Linked DNA regions of Homo sapiens. The protein of the gene in region 1 interacts with the protein of each later gene in a biochemical or structural test. Each region holds a gene or a part of one and is shown on either strand. Other genes may lie near its edges.

Region 1 (8,214 bases):
TAATAATAATTATAGGCCGGGTGCTGTGGCTCACGCCTGTAATCCCATCACTTTGGGAGGCCGAGGCAGGCGGATCACAAGGTCAGGAGATCGAGACCATCCTGGCTAACATGGTGAAACCCTGTCTCTACTAAAAGTACAAAAAATTAGCCAGTCGTGGTGGCGGGCGCCTGTAGTCCCAGCTACTCCGGAGGCTGAAGTAGGAGAATGGCGTGAACCCGGGAGGCGGAGCTTGCAGTGAGCCAAGATCGCGCCACTGCACTCCAGCCTGGGCGACAAAGCATGTCTCTGTATCAAAAAATAAAATAAAATAATAATAATAATTAGTAGTGATTTCATGTGATTATTATCCATGCGTAATTTCTCTAGTGTCTTTTGTGCCCTTATAATACTGGGGTCTTAACTTACCCAGGCATTGACTTGCCTTTCATAGACCATGGACTCCAGAGATTTGGATTATTATTTCTAATCTCAACCCTGAGGGAAAGCTATTTTAACATATTCTATCCTATGAAGATAAAGTTGATCATGGTTTTTTTTTTTTTTTTTTTTTTTTTTTTTTTTGAGACAGAGTCTTGCTCTGTCACCAGGCTGGAGTGCAGTGGTGCGATCTCAGCTCACTGCAACCTCTGCCTCCTGGGTTCAAGCAATTCCACTGCCTCAGCCTCCCCAGTAGCTGGGACTATAGGCGTGCACCACCACACCCAGCTAATTTTTTGTATTTTAGTAGAGACGGGGTTTCACCATGTTGGCCAGGATGCTCTCGATCTCCTGACCTCGTGATCCACCTGCCTCGGCCTCCCAAAGTGCTGGGATTACAGGCATGAGCCACCGCGCCTGGCCACTAAGTTGATCATGTTTTATTTAGGTTTTTGGTTTCTAGGATGGAGGGAAGACCTGGAGTATGTTCAATTATTGGATAGTCTTATATGTGATTTTTTTTAATTGCAGTAAAATGTACATAATATTTACAATTTTAACTATTTGTGAGTGTGCAGTCTAGTGACAGTAAGTATATTAATAATGTGAGACTATCACCAGAACTCATTTCCAGAATTTTTTCATTATTCAAAACAGAAGCTGTATACCCTTAAGTGATAACTCCCCATCCCTGTTTCTGCCCAGCCAATGATAACCTCTATTTTCTGTGTCAGTGAATTTGACTATTCTAGATACCTCATATGAGTAGAATAATATTATATTTTGTCCTTTCATGTGTGTGTGTGAGGTCTCACTCTGTCACCTCTGCTGGAGTACAGTGGCACAATCATAACTCACTGCAGCCTCAAACTCCCGGGCTCTGATTATTCTCCCACCTCAGCCTACCAAGTAGGTGGGACTGCAAGTGTGTGCCACTATGCCTGGCTACTTTTTTTTTTTTTTTTTTTTTTTTTTTTTTGAGACAGAGTCTCACTCTGTCACCCAGGCTGGAGTGCAGTGGTGCAATCTTGACTCACTGCAACCTTTATCTCCCAGGTTCAGGTGATTCTTATGCCTTAACCTCCCTAGTAGCTGGGATTACAGACGTGTGCTACCATGCCTGGTGAATTTTTTTGTATTTTTAGTAGAGACGGAGTTTCACCATGTTGGCCAGGCTGGTCTTAAACTCCTGGCCTCATGTGATCTGCCCACCTCAACCTAATTTTTTTGTATATTTTGTAGAATCAGGGTTTTGCCATGTTGCCCAGGCTGGTCTCAAACTCCTGGGTTCAAGAGATCCATCTGCTTCAGCCTCCCATAGTGCTGGGGTTACAGGTGTGAGCCACTGCGTCCAGCCTATATTTTCATTTAGCGTAATGTCTTCAAAGTTCATCTATGTCATAGCATGTATTAGAATTTCATTTCTTTTGTATGTATATATCATATTTTGTTTATCCATTCATCTGTTGATGGACATTTTGAGTTGTTTCCAACCTTTTGGCCATTGTGAGTAATGCCGTTATGAACATAGGTGTACAAAATCTGCTTGAGTCCTTGCTTTTATTTTATTTTGTGTATTTTTTTTTTCCAAGATGGAGTCTTTGCCCTGTCACCCAGGCTGGAGTGCAGTGGAACGATCACAGCTCACTGCAACTTCCACCTCCCTGGTTCAAGCAGTTCTCCTGCCTCAGCCTCCCAAGTAGCTGGGATTACAGGCACATGCTACCATGCCCGGCTAATTTTTGTATTTTTAGTAGAGATGGGGTTTCAACATGTTGGCCAGGCTGCTCTCGAACTCCTGACCTCGTGATCTGCTGGCCTCGGCCTCCCGAAGTACTGGGATTACAGGCGTGAGCTACTGCGCCCGGCCCCTGCTTTTAATTCTTTTGGGTATATATTCAGAAGTAGAATTGCTTGATTACATGATAATTCTACATTTAATTTTTTGAGGAACTGCCATGCTATTATCCATAGAATGCCTCTGCACCCTTTTACATTCCCACCAGCAATGCACAAACACTTGTTATTTCTTATAATGGCTATCCTAATGGGTATAAAGAAGTATCTCTTGCAATTTTCATATGCATTTCCATAATGATTACTTTGTTGAGCATCTTTTGATGTGCTTATGGGCCATTTGTATATCTTCTTTGGAGAAATGTCTATTCATGTCCCTTTTGATTGTTATTGTTGTTGTTACTGAGTTGTAGGAGTTCCTTATATATTCTGATATTAATCTCTCATCAAATATAAGACTTGCAAATGTTTTCTCCCATTTTGTGGGTTGCCTTTTCATTCCCTTAATGGTGTTCTTTGATGCACAAAAGTTTTCCATTTTGATGAAGACCAATTTATCTGTTTTTTTCTTTCGTTACCTGTGCTTTTGGTGGCATTATCCAAATCCAGTGTCATGAATTTTTTCCCTTATCTTTTCTTCTAAGAGTTTTATAGTTTTAGCTCTTACATTTAGAACTTTGATATATTTTGAATAGTTTTTAATGTTGTCAATATACTTGACAGGACAATGGAAACTTGGTGGACAGTGAAATGAAATATTTGGGCAGTCCCATTACTACTGTTCCAAAATTGGATAAAAATCCAAACCTAGGAGAAGACCAGGCAGAAGAGATTTCAGATGAATTAATGGAGTTTTCCCTGAAAGATCAAGAAGCAAAGGTAAAGTGTTCTGTGGTAGTATCTTTGTATTCTTCATATTCCTTCATTCTGTTAAAAGAAGAACTAGACAAATTAAACTTAGGAGAGTTTATTTGAGCAAAAAAATAACTAGTGAATCCAGCAACCCTCATAGCCAGAACATGTTCAGTAAAACTCCAGTTTGCCATGTGGTCAGGCAGTATTATGGACAGAAAATGGAAATGAAGTACAGAAAATAGAAGTGAGGTACAGAGACAGCCCAGTTGGTTGCAGCCTTGAGTTTGCCTTATTTGAACATGGTTTAAACAGTTGATTGCTTGTGGTTGACTGAAGCTCAGCTGCTGTGCTTTCCTGAGACTCAGCTTTTTGATACAAAAGTATACTTCTAAATTAGGCTTTCAGTTAGTTTAAGTACTAAGTTAGGTTGCAACTTGGTATATAAAGACTCAAGTACAGAGGCATCCCCAGGCCAAATTTAGTTTAATTAAGAATTCATTCTTCTTTTTTTTGTTGTTTGTTTTTTTTAAGACAGATTCTCGCTCTGTCGCCTAGGCTGGAGTGCAGTGGCGCCATCTTGGCTCACTGCGACCTCCTCTTCCCAGGTTCAAGCGATTCTCCTGCCTCAGCCTCTCGAGTAGCTGGGATTACAGGTGTGCACCACCACACCCGGGTAATTTTTAGTATTTTTAGTAGAGACAGGGTTTCACCATGTTGGCCAGGCTGGTCTTAAACTCCTGGCCTCAGGTGATCTACCCACCTCAGGCTTCCAAAGTGCTGGGATTGCAAGCGTGAGCCACCATGCCCAGCCAACAATTCATTCTTGAATAAACATTTTATGCCTGATATGTATGAGTCACTCTACTAAATGCTAGAGCTACAGAGATCAACAAGATGTGATAACCTATCTTTATTTATTTATTTATTTTTGAGATGGAGTCTTGCTGTGTCACCTAGGCTGGAGTGCAGTGGTGGTATCTCAGCTCACTGCAACCTCCGTCTCCTGGGTTTAAGTGATTCTCTTGCCTCAGCCTCCCAAAGCACGCCATCATGCCTGGCTAATTTTTTGTAATTTTAGTAGAGACGGGGTTTTGCCATGTTGGCCAGACTGGTCTCGAACTCCTGACCTCAAGTGATCTGCCCGCCTTGGCCTCCCAAAGAGCTGGGATTACAGGCATGAGCCACCACGCCTGGCGTAACCTATCTTTAGACTGTAGGGTTACCTGACTGATAGGTTATCAGGTCACTACAGAAATCTTCTTACTGCTGGTGAACAGGTTCCAGTCAATAGTTTGAGTGGATCACCATCAAAGTAATCTAGGATAAGTAATGTCTCCAGGATAATGGTAATGTATAAATGTATAGAATATACCTAACATTACTTTTCAGGTATTTTATAATACAGTCTTTTGTTTCCTTTTTTCTTTCCCATATCACTGATAGATATACCTGAAGCATGTGGGTTATAGCCTATATGCTGATATGCCAAAGATAGTTTCTGAGGCATTTAGCTTTTTTTGGTTTTTGGTTTTTGGTTTTTTTTTTTTTTTTTTTTTTTTTAGATAGACAGGGTCTTTCTCTGTAGCCCAGGCTGGGGTACGTGGCACAATTAAAGTTCACTGCAGCCTCAATCTCCCCAGGCTCTGGCAGTCCTCCCACCTCAGCCTCCAAGTAGCTGGGACTATAGGCACATGCCATCATACCTGGCTAATTTTTTGTATTTTTTGTAGCGATGTGGTTTCACAATATTGCCCAGGCTAGTCTCAAACTCCTGGACTCAAGTGATTCACACACCTTGGCCTCCCAAAGTGCTGGGATTACAGGCATGAGCTACCATGCCTGGCCTACATTTAGCATTTCTAAATCAGCTTTGTTGCTTTGAAACAAGTAGGGCTATGGGTTTGTCTTTAAAATTTATTCATTTCACAAGGCCAGTATGGTATAGTGGAGTTAGAACAGTTGCATTCTAGTCCTCATGCTTTTATTTTTTTTAATTATTTAATTAATTAGATAGGGTCTTGCTCTGCTCTGTCACCCAGACTGGAGTGCAGTGTTGAACTCCTGGGCTCAAGTAATCCTCCCACCTCAGCCTCCTGAGTAGCTAGGACTATAGGTGCATACCACCATGCCCAGCTAATTTTTAAAATTTTTTGTAGAGATGGGGTCTTGATGTGTTGCCCAAGCTGGTTTGGAACTCCTGCGCTCCAGCAATCCTCTTGCCTTTGTTGCGGGATCTTTAGGGTGTTGCTTTTCTGGCCAGAAACCTTTCTGCCCAGTGGTGCCTTTGCCTGAGTTGTTGTCCTGCGTCGAGGTAAGCAGACAAGTAGAGGGTTAGCAAGACGAAGAGAAGCTTTATTGAGTGTTAGAACAGCTCAGAGGAGACCCACAGGGGGCAGCTCCTCTCTGTAGGCAGTTTGTCTTATCCCGTATTCAGCTCTCAGCAGAGAGGAGGCCCTGGAGTGGGTGGCTCCTCTCTGCAGGCAGGTCCTCCCTGTTGATTTCCCAGCTTTCAGCAGACAGCATAGCTCCTCTCTCCTCTTTGGTTGTCTGATCTTTTCTCCATCCTCTACCCTGCTCTGGCTGAGCCTGGGCCTTTTATGGACCTCAGAGGGGAGAAAGTGCTTCCTGATTGGTTCATGGACTGTGAGAAAAGGCAGCACAAATCCCCATCCAGTGGGTGGGACTAGCAGCCCGGTCCCCAGCCTTTAAGCCCTCCCCGTCCTGAAGGTGGGGACTTACAGGAACCTCCCTTCTACCCAGGAGCCTGTCTGTCTCTCTCAGCAGTCCATGGCACCAGGCTGCTCACACCAAGGTGCACCTAAAGGCCAGCACTGACCACCCTCAGTCCCTACTTGGCTTCCCCTCTTTTGCTTCTCCGTGCCCAAATTCTAGAGGGGGTCAAGGTGGCAGGGTGCTGCCCTGAGGGTGCACACACAGATCCGCCCCCGGACTGTAACAGCACCTGGACTTGCCCCAACCCCACTCTGAGATTGGAGTGGGTGCCAAGAGCAGAGAGAAGTGGGGATATGGGGGTGGTGGGGAGGCCTTCCTGGGCCCCCAAGGGTGCAGGCTGCAGAGACTATTAGGTCCTGCACCTGGGAGGGCAGCTGCAGCTGCACCCGGGAAGGCAGGGATCCTGCCTGCTCCCGGCCCCCACAAGACCACAGGGAGGCTCGGATCTGCAGCCACAACTTGGGCGGCTGCAAGCCCACCCAGGAGGGCAGGGCTTCTGCCTGCTCCGTGGAACAGGAGGCCCAGGTTAACAGCTGCAGTTTGTGTAGCTCCAGCAGCACCAGGGGAGCTCCTGCCCCAACTCAGAAGGGGAAGGGCTCCCGCTAGCTCCATGGATCATGCAGCCCTATCCATACCTCTCTGCTGCAGCCAGTTTGATGACAGCAGCAAGCCCTCTGGAGTTGCAGCTGCCAACACCTTGGCCTCTCAAAGTGCTGGAATTACAAGTGTGAGCCACCGTATCCAGCCTCATTCTTTTATTTACTTGGTGGTATGACTGTTCACAAGACAACCACTTGACCTCAGTTTTTAATTTATAAAATGGAGAGCATGATAAAACAACTACCTCCTTAATAGGCTTGTTGTAAATAAAATATTAAAAGCAGTTTATGTCCTCATCACATACACACAAATGGTAACTGTGTGATGAAGGATGTGTTAATGAATTTCATTGTGGTAATCCTCATGTAATATATACGTAAATCATTATATTGTACTCCTTAAGTATATACAAATTTTATCATTTATACCTCCATAAAATAGAAAAAAAAATTTAAAGAGCAGTTTGTAATACAGTAGTCCTCTGTTATCCACAGAGAATACATTCTGAGACCCCCCAGTGGATGCCTAAAATTGCAGACAGTACTGAACCCTATATATACCATGCTTTTCCCTATGCATATGTACCTGTGATGGAGTTTTTTACTTAGGCATAGTAAGAGATTAACAATAATAACTAATAATAAAATAGAACAATTACAACAACATACTATAATAAAAATTATAGGAGGCTGGGCGTGGTGGTTTATGCCTGTAATCCCAGCACACTGGGAGGCCGAAGCGGGTGGTCAGGAGTTTGAGAGCTGCCTGGCCAACATGGTGAAACTCCATCTCTACTAAAAATACAAAAATTAGCTGGGCGTGGTGGTGAGCATCTGTAACCCCAGCTACTGGGCTGGCTGAGGCAGTAGAATCGCTTGAACTTAAACCCAGGTGGCAGAGGCTGCAGTGAGCCGAGATCGCACCGCTGTACTCCAGCCTGGGCAACAGAGTGAGACTCTAACTCAAAAAAAAAAAAAAAAAAAAGTGCTGGCTGGGCATGGTGAGTCAGGCCTGTAATCCCAGCACTTTAGGAGGTTGAGATGGGCAGATCACCTGAAGCCAGGAGTTTGAGACCAGCTTGGCCAACATGGTGAAACCCTGTCTCTATTAAAAATACCAAAAAAAAAAAAAAAATTAGCCAGGTGTGGTGGCGGGCACCTGTAATCCCAGCTACCCAGGAGGCTGAGGCAGGAGAATCGCTTGAACCTAGGAGGCAGAGGTTGCAGTGAGCCAAGATCGCTCCATTGCACTCCAGCCTGGGCAACAAGAGTGAAACTCTGTCTCAAAAAAAAAAAAAAAAAAAAAAGTGCTATAGGCTGGGAGCGGTGACTCACACCTGTAATCCCAGAACTTTGGGAGGTCAAGGTGGGTGGATCACCTGAGGTCAGGATTTCTAGACCAGCCTGGCCAACAGTATGAAACCTTGGCTCTACTAAAAATACAAAAATTAGCTGGGTGTGGTGGCAGGTGCCTGTAATGCCAGCTACTTGGGAGGCTTAGGCAGGAGAATCACTTGAACCCAGGAGGTGGAGGTTGCATTGAGCCAAGATCACACCGTTGCACTCTAGCCTGGGCAACAGAATGAGACTCCATCTCAAAAAAAAAAAAAGGTGCTATGAATGACAGGACGATTTGAATAAAGGACAGCACTTTGAGAGGCCAAGGCAGGTGGATCACCTGAGGTCAGGAGTTTGAGACCAGCCTGACCAACATGTTGAAGCCTCGTCTCTATTAAAAATACAAAAATTTAGCTGGGCATGGTGTTGGGCACCTGTAATCCCAGCTACTCAGGAGGCTGACACAGGAGAA
Region 2 (7,758 bases), on another chromosome or scaffold:
GAGTGACAAACAAGTTTTATGGTACATCATAAATGCAGTGTATCCTAAATGCAATGTATTGCCTACACAATTTTTTCTTTGTAGACATTCTAGTTACATGAAATCATTGTATACATTTTATACATTTACAGATCTAAAATAGCATGCTGTTTCCTCTTGGTTTACATGAAATAATTGAGAATTTTCTAGGATTGCTTTTTGTATATTAAGTAAATTCTATGTTTGCTATTAATACTTAAATATTCGATGTAGAATCAAAGGATTGATATTTCAGAACACTGAGAAGTACATAAAATCTGGATCTAAATTTATAATTTAAATTTATAATTTAAAGCTATTGTATTAAATAAGTTTATCAGTTAAAAACTGATAAAGAGGTATTAGGATCTCCAGTGTGACTCAGGAGAGAGTTGAGGGTAAAAGAAATGGAGTTAATGAGAGAGATCAAAATATAAAAAGATAACTGATAAAAGAACTTTCATAATAAAACTGTTTCACGAAGGACCTCACAGGCATTTGTGGTTTTGTACTGTGAGACTATATGAAGTTTAAATCTGAGCCAGGTGTGGTGGTACATGCCTGCAATCCTAGCTACTTAGGAGGCAGGAGGATTGCTTGAGCTCAAGAGTTCCAGGTTACAGTAAGTTATGATCTCACGCCAGGGCACTCCAGCCTGGGTGAAAGAACAAGACCGTATCTCTAAAAAAAGTTAAATTATAAAAGAAGTATAATCTGTAAAATATTTAGTGAAATTGGCTTAGATTTGCCCAGACTTCCCCTTTGGCATTATATTTCAGGAATGAGAAAAATAATTAGCATAGCATTTAGAAGAAATGGGGGGAATTTCAAGGTTACTAAATAAATCAGGGTTAGTATAAGAGGAAGCAGAGGCTTTGAAGTCATGGCTTGCATTCTTGATTTGGATATTGGTTTTCTCTTTATAATTTTTCTGTGATGACGCCTTTTGCCACCTAACACAGGTAAATGTGAGTTAAGCCCCATATGTGTTAGTGGACTCCTGAATCTTTTGTTGGCATTTGCTTCTGTTTGCCTAAGCACATTTGTAAATGTCTAAGCTTCAAATTAAGAAGCTATGTGGTTGCTACCTGATTATATTTAGTCAATAAACTTACTTTCATATTTGTTTTAGAGCCAGACATAGGCATGCCTGAACCAGATGCTCAGAGATTCTTCCATCAACTCATGGCAGGGGTGGTAGGTATAGTTGTCTATTTCCCTTTTACTTAAAATTAGAGTGAATACATTACATTACCAAATTCTAGTGTGTTTCTCTCTGCATCCCTCTTAGGTTTATCTGCATGGTATTGGAATAACTCACAGGGATATTAAACCAGAAAATCTTCTGTTGGATGAAAGGGGTAAGTTTAGCATTTTATCACTACCTAAAATAAAATAAAATAATTACCTAAATTATTTTAATTACCTAATTATTTTAATATAGCCATACAAGGCAAAATCAAGTCTTTTTGCATTACTGGAATTTCAAGACAAGATCTGAAAAATCAAGGAAATTTTGGAGACTTCGTATATTTGGAAATCACAAGTCTCATTTTGCAATACAAGTGCGGATCAGGTAGAGAAATCTGACCTAGGTGCAAGCCTAGCTCACTATATGTATAAGAATAATTTTTTTTTTTTTGATACAGGCTCACTGTGTTGTCCAGTCTGGGGTGCACTGTATTATCACAGTTCACTGCAGCCTTGACCTCCTAGGCTCAAGCAATCCTACCATCTCAGCTTCCCGAGTAGCTAGGACCAACCACAGGCAGGTGCCACCATGCCTGGCTAATTTTTGATTTTTTGAAGAGGTGGAGTCTTCCTGTGTTGCTCAGGCTAGTCTTGAACTCCTGGACTCAAGCAGTTTACCAGCCTTAGCCTCCCAGAGTGTTGGGATTATAGACGTGAGCCACCATGCCTGGCCAAGAATAGTTTAAAATAATCCTTTAATGGATTAATAAAGGGAAGTTCCTGTGGAATACCCTGGACCTTAGTCTTGTCCTGTTCACTCTTTTTTTATGTATGACGTGGATAAAAATGTAAGAAATTTAGTTATATTTTCTGAATGTCATCAAATTGAGAAGGATGGATAGCGAAAGCTTTAAGCTTACAGGGTCAGAATCAAAAAAGAAATGTCAGCTGTATGAGGCAGTAGTTTTTGTCTGGTTTAATGCTTTATTCTTAGTATTAGAATAGTGCTTAACAAATGGTCAGCTTTTTTTTTTTTTTGAAACAGAGTCTTGCTGTGTTGCCCAGGCTGGAGTGTAGTGACATGATCTCGGCTCACTGTAACCTCTACCTCTCTGGTTCAGGTGATTCTTGTGCCTTAGGCCCCTGAGTAGCTGGGATTACAAGCCTGAGTCACCACACCTGGCTCATTTTTATATTTTTAGTAGAGATGGGGTTTTGTCATATTGGCCAGGCTGGTCTCGAGCTCCTGGCCTCAAGTGATCTGCCTCCCTTGGCCTCCCAGAGTGCTGGGATTATAGGTGTGAGCCGCTGTACCCAGCCTATACATGCTTTTTTCTTATGTGCATATGGATTTTACTTTTTACCCCTTTAAACTGAGTTTATATGACATAAAAATCTTTATTTTTATTTAAAACTTTAAAAATTCAGGTACACAAAAATTCTTATGTATTATAATGAAATGTAAATATATGTATATCAACCCACCTGGTTTAAAAATACAACATTATTCGTATATAAGAATGCTCACAGTGGTGATGTTTTTAATATAGCAGGAAACTAACCCAAATGTCTGTCAACAATAAATTATGAAATGCATGGCTTTTCAAGCCATGTCACAAGCAGTGACACAAGCATGTCACAAGCAGTGACATGGATGAATTTCAGGTATATAATGATGTAGAGCAAAAAGAGACAGTTGCAAAAGAATTCATATGGTCTGATTCTGTTTATACAAAGTTCAAAAATATGTAAAACCTAGTATATTGTTCAAGTATGTAAACATGGAGAAAAAAACATGCAGAAAAGCAAGGGTATAATAAAACCAAATTCAGAATGGTCTAAGAAAGTAGGGGAGGGAATGTATTTAAGGAAGTATTTAAAGATTTCAAAGGAAATAGAGCATTGTTTTTCTAAAGTGAGTGGGTGTTTATTACATTGTTATTCTTTATATCTTGTATTAATATACAAGATATAATTCTTTGTTTCTATTTAATATTTAGGAGTCTTTTAAAAAAAGAAATAAAATGTTACCAGTATTTAATGTCCTCCTGTTTATTTCATCACAAATATATTCTTCCTTTGTTTTTCTAAGAGCTAAACACATTCCTACATTTAAATTTTATTATGTGCAGTTCTCTAACATAGCTGAGTATTATGTTGCAGACATAACAAAGTCCAAGGAATACTATAGTTATCCATTAGTATTTTAAGTGATTACTACTCATAAGTAATTTGAAACTCAATCTCAGTGGTTTGTCCAATAGTGTCATATTTAACTACTGAAAAGATAATCAACTGGGTGCAGTAGCTCATGCCTGTAATCCCAGAGGCTGAGGTGGGACGATTGAGTGATTCTAGGAGTTTGAGACCAGCCTAGACAACATAGACCCTGTCTTTATGAAAAATTAAAAAAAAAAATTAGCTAGACATGGTGGTGCACACCTGGAGTCCCAGCTACTTGGAAGGCTGAAGCAGGAGGATTGATCACTTCAGCCTAGGAGGTCAAGGCTGCAGTAAGCTGTGATCACATCACTACACTCTAGTCTGGGCAGCAGAGTGAGACACTTTCTCAAAAAAAAAAAAAAAAAAAAAAAAAAAGGGTAATCACAGTAGCTACCTCCTAAGTCAGATAGAGGTAAACATTTCATTGGTTTACATATTGTGTGAATGTACTTGATTTTTAAAGAAATCAGTCCCCTATTTTGAGACATTTAAGTTGTTTCTAACTTATAAAATAGGACAGTGATGGCTTCTATCAATTTGTGTAAAAGGCCAATATAAAAATTGCGTCATGCTATAATATTTTTTATGCTATAATATTTTTTATGCCATTAGCCTTTTTGTCCCACTTACACACTATTTCATGTTAGTATGTATAGATATACCTTGTTGATTGTTTTCAAAACCTACCTCCACATTTTCCATTGTACAAATTTGGACATTTATTTACAAATAATATTGCTATGAATATTCTTATGTTTATGAATTTGTGGGATTATTTCTATGGATATAGAAGTGGGAATTGCTAGTTCAAAGAGTGAATGTTTCACAGTTTAGTATGTTTTGCCAAATTGCCCTCTGATAATAGAGGGCCTTTTCTAACTCTTAAGACTGGGTTACATTCCTTTGCTCTAAGATCCTATAGTGCTCTATATTTTTATAACCTTCATAACAGTTTTCTATTGTCAGTCTTCACTAATTTATCTATTACCTGCATTGGCTGGCATAGTGTCTGTCACTAAGTTACAGTAGATATTCACTAAACATAAGTTAAGTCCTGCCTGCAGTTTTTGTGTGTTGAAGATGGGAAGTTAGGGTGGAAGTTGGGTCTTCTGATATTTTTTTTTTGTACAGAGTTTGTCCTCTTTTTCTCAGACTCTCTACTTTGAAGAAAAAAATTACTGTGGTTTGTTGAATTTTGGTGTGTCTTCACATATTTTCTTCTGCCAACTGGGTTTGTTTGCTGCTGAGAAAGTTGTGCCTAACATACTACTGATGTTTCCTTCCTGCCCTCCACCCTACCTGATGAGGGGCCTTGCTTTACTTTCATCTCAGGTTTAGAGTGCTCTTTTCCAGAAGGGCAGCCCCTTCTGACTCCAGCCTCTTTCTTTAATCTGGTCCAGACTGTTCTGTGTGTTGATAATACTTCTTTTAAGTTAATAGAAGAGGTGAGGCCTTTTTCTACTTTTAGCATAGATGATGATTTATTTTATTTTTTTAAATTTCTTTTTGTCTATTTTGCTTATTTTAAGAGAAGTTCTACAAACCTTAAGTAACACCAGTGATTTTTTTTCAGTAAAACTTAATTCCTGTAAGTATATCTATTTGCAAAACATTTTTATTCAGTGTCATCTTTTTTTCTTTTGGTTTAGATAACCTCAAAATCTCAGACTTTGGCTTGGCAACAGTATTTCGGTATAATAATCGTGAGCGTTTGTTGAACAAGATGTGTGGTACTTTACCATATGTTGCTCCAGAACTTCTGAAGAGAAGAGAATTTCATGCAGAACCAGTTGATGTTTGGTCCTGTGGAATAGTACTTACTGCAATGCTCGCTGGAGGTAAGAGCTATTTAATCATGGTAAAACTCCTATAAAAAGTCAGATTAGTTATACTGAAATAAATGAAATAAACCAAGGAATTCATGTTTATATAATAGTTTTTGTTTTCTTTTTTAAGAGACAGGGTCTCACTCTTGGCCAGACTGGAGTACAGTGAGCTGTTATAGCTCACTGCAGCCTCAAACTTCTAGGCTCAAGCAATCCTCTGGCCTCACTCTTCCAAGTAGCTAGGACCAGTGGTGCCTGCCACAAGACATCTGGCTAAGTTTTAAAAATTCATTGTAGAGATGGGATCTTGCTGTGTTGTCCAGGCTGGTCTTAAACACCTGGTCTCAAGCAAGCCTTCTGTCTTGGTCTCCAAACTGTTAGGATTAAAGTAAAGACATGAGCCATGGTACCCAGCTTTTATAGTAGTATTTTAATAGTGTCTTGATCGGTTTGGTAACTGCTGTAACAAAGTATCATAGACTGCATAGCTTATAAACAGCAAATTTATTTCTCACAGTTCTGGAGGCTGAAAATATGAGATTAGGGGTGCCAACCTGGTCATGTTTTAGTGAGGGCCCTCTTCCTGATTTGCAGATGGCTGTCTTGCTGTGCTCTCTCATGGTGGACAGCCAAGAGAGCAGAAGCAAGCTCTATTGTGGTTTTTTTTTTTTTTTTTAGACCAGAGTCTTGCTCTGTCACCCACGCTGGAGTACAGTGATGTGATCTCAGCTCACTGCAACCTCTGCCTCCCAGGTTCTAGCAATTCTGTCCCAGGCTCCCAAGTAGCTGGGATTACAGGCATGCATCATCACACCCGGCTAATTTTTGTATTTTGAGTAGAGACAGGGTTTCACCATGTTGGCCAGACTGGTCTCAAACTCCTGACCTCAAGTGATCCCCCAACCTCAGCCTCCCAAAGTGCTGTTTTTTGGGTTTTTTGTTAAATGACCAGATGTTGTGAGATATTGTGTCTGTTTTTTGTTTTTTTGTGGTTTTTTTTGAGACAGGGTCTCACTCTATTGCCCAGGCTGGAGTGCAGTGGCACAATTCAAGGCTCACTGCAGCCTTGAGCTCCCAGGCTCAAGCGATCCTCCTGCCTCAGTCTCCTCAGTATCTGGGTCTACAGGCGTGCACCACCACACCTGGCTAATTTGTTGTGGGTTTTTTTTCACAGACGGTCTCTCCATGTTACGTAGGCTGGTCTTAAACTCCTGGGCTCAAGTAATCTGCCTACCTAAGCCTCCCAAAGTGCTGGGATTATATAATTAGTGCCCTATAAAGATACAATATTGTCCGGGCACACAAGCCCTTATTAGACATTAATAAGCTCTTAATAAGAGCACTAATACCATTTTTTGAGTGGTCCCATCACCAGGACCTAATTACGTCTCAAAGGCCCCACCTCCGAATGCCATTGCATTATGAGTTAGGATATCAACATGACTTTTGAGGGGGATACAAATATTTAGCACATTGCAAATAGTAACTTATTTATAATCCCAAAGATTTTTTAAGCTAAGGCATGCATAGTTATTAAATATCACAACACTTATCTCTCCTGTGTATCATGTAAACATTTGTGAAAACAAGACTAGGGCAAGAAATGATTCATCTGTTTTTTGGTTTTTTTTTTTTTGAGACAAAGTCTTGCTCTGTCGCCCAGGCTGCAGTGCAGCAGTGTGATCTTGGCTCACTGCAGTCTTGACCTCTTGGGTTCAAGTGATCCTCTCACTTTAGCCTCCTGAGGAGCCAGGACTACAGATGCACACCATCACGCCCAGCTAATTTTATTTATTTTTTGTAGAGATGGGGTCTCACTATGTTGCCCAGGCTGGTCTTGAACTCCTGGGCTCAAGCAGTCCTTCTGCCTCAGCCTCCCAAAGTGCTGTGATTACAGGCCTGAGCTGCCATGCCTATCCTGATTCATCTATCTTTGAAGTGCCTCTAAAGTTTCCAAGTTGGGATTCTTAGTGTGAAAACCATATTGAATTAATTCAAAGGAAACTTTTCATGGATTTATATTATTATTTTTCCTTGAAATCTTTATAATAAGAACATTTAAAAAAACTGGGACTTGCTTTGTTTTTAGAATTGCCATGGGACCAACCCAGTGACAGCTGTCAGGAGTATTCTGACTGGAAAGAAAAAAAAACATACCTCAACCCTTGGAAAAAAATCGATTCTGCTCCTCTAGGTAACTGAATTATCTTGAGTGAAAGAGTACCGATTTCTTGGATATGAAGTCTTGTGCTATTTGAATTTTTTCTTACTTTTTTTTTTGTTTTAAACTTACAAATAATTCATGTTCGTTGTAGATAAAATAGTAACTATAAGTAAAAAATTAAGGAAAAAATAACTCTTTAGTCCCAGAACTCTGCAATAGATTTTTAAAAATATTTTGGGGAGTGTATATTCAGAGCAACTTGAATCTGCTCTTAGATGGCTTTTTACTTAAAGTTTTCATATGTGCTATACTTTGTTGCAAATACACTCGTTTGTT

What was found.
Region 2: of the proteins of CDC25C (region 1) and CHEK1, one has a biochemical effect on the other in vitro, tested with the Homo sapiens proteins (16 studies listed by BioGRID and IntAct, with this or other methods).

Annotation. Positions count from the first base shown.
Region 1 is NC_000005.10:138,314,101-138,322,314, reverse strand, and holds part of CDC25C (M-phase inducer phosphatase 3), read left to right. Parts: intron 1-2,940; coding exon 2,941-3,096; intron 3,097-8,214. UniProt on the Homo sapiens protein: Functions as a dosage-dependent inducer in mitotic control. Tyrosine protein phosphatase required for progression of the cell cycle. When phosphorylated, highly effective in activating G2 cells into prophase.
Region 2 is NC_000011.10:125,628,082-125,635,839, forward strand, and holds part of CHEK1 (serine/threonine-protein kinase Chk1), read left to right. Parts: intron 1-1,150; coding exon 1,151-1,215; intron 1,216-1,309; coding exon 1,310-1,379; intron 1,380-5,081; coding exon 5,082-5,270; intron 5,271-7,347; coding exon 7,348-7,452; intron 7,453-7,758. UniProt on the Homo sapiens protein: Serine/threonine-protein kinase which is required for checkpoint-mediated cell cycle arrest and activation of DNA repair in response to the presence of DNA damage or unreplicated DNA.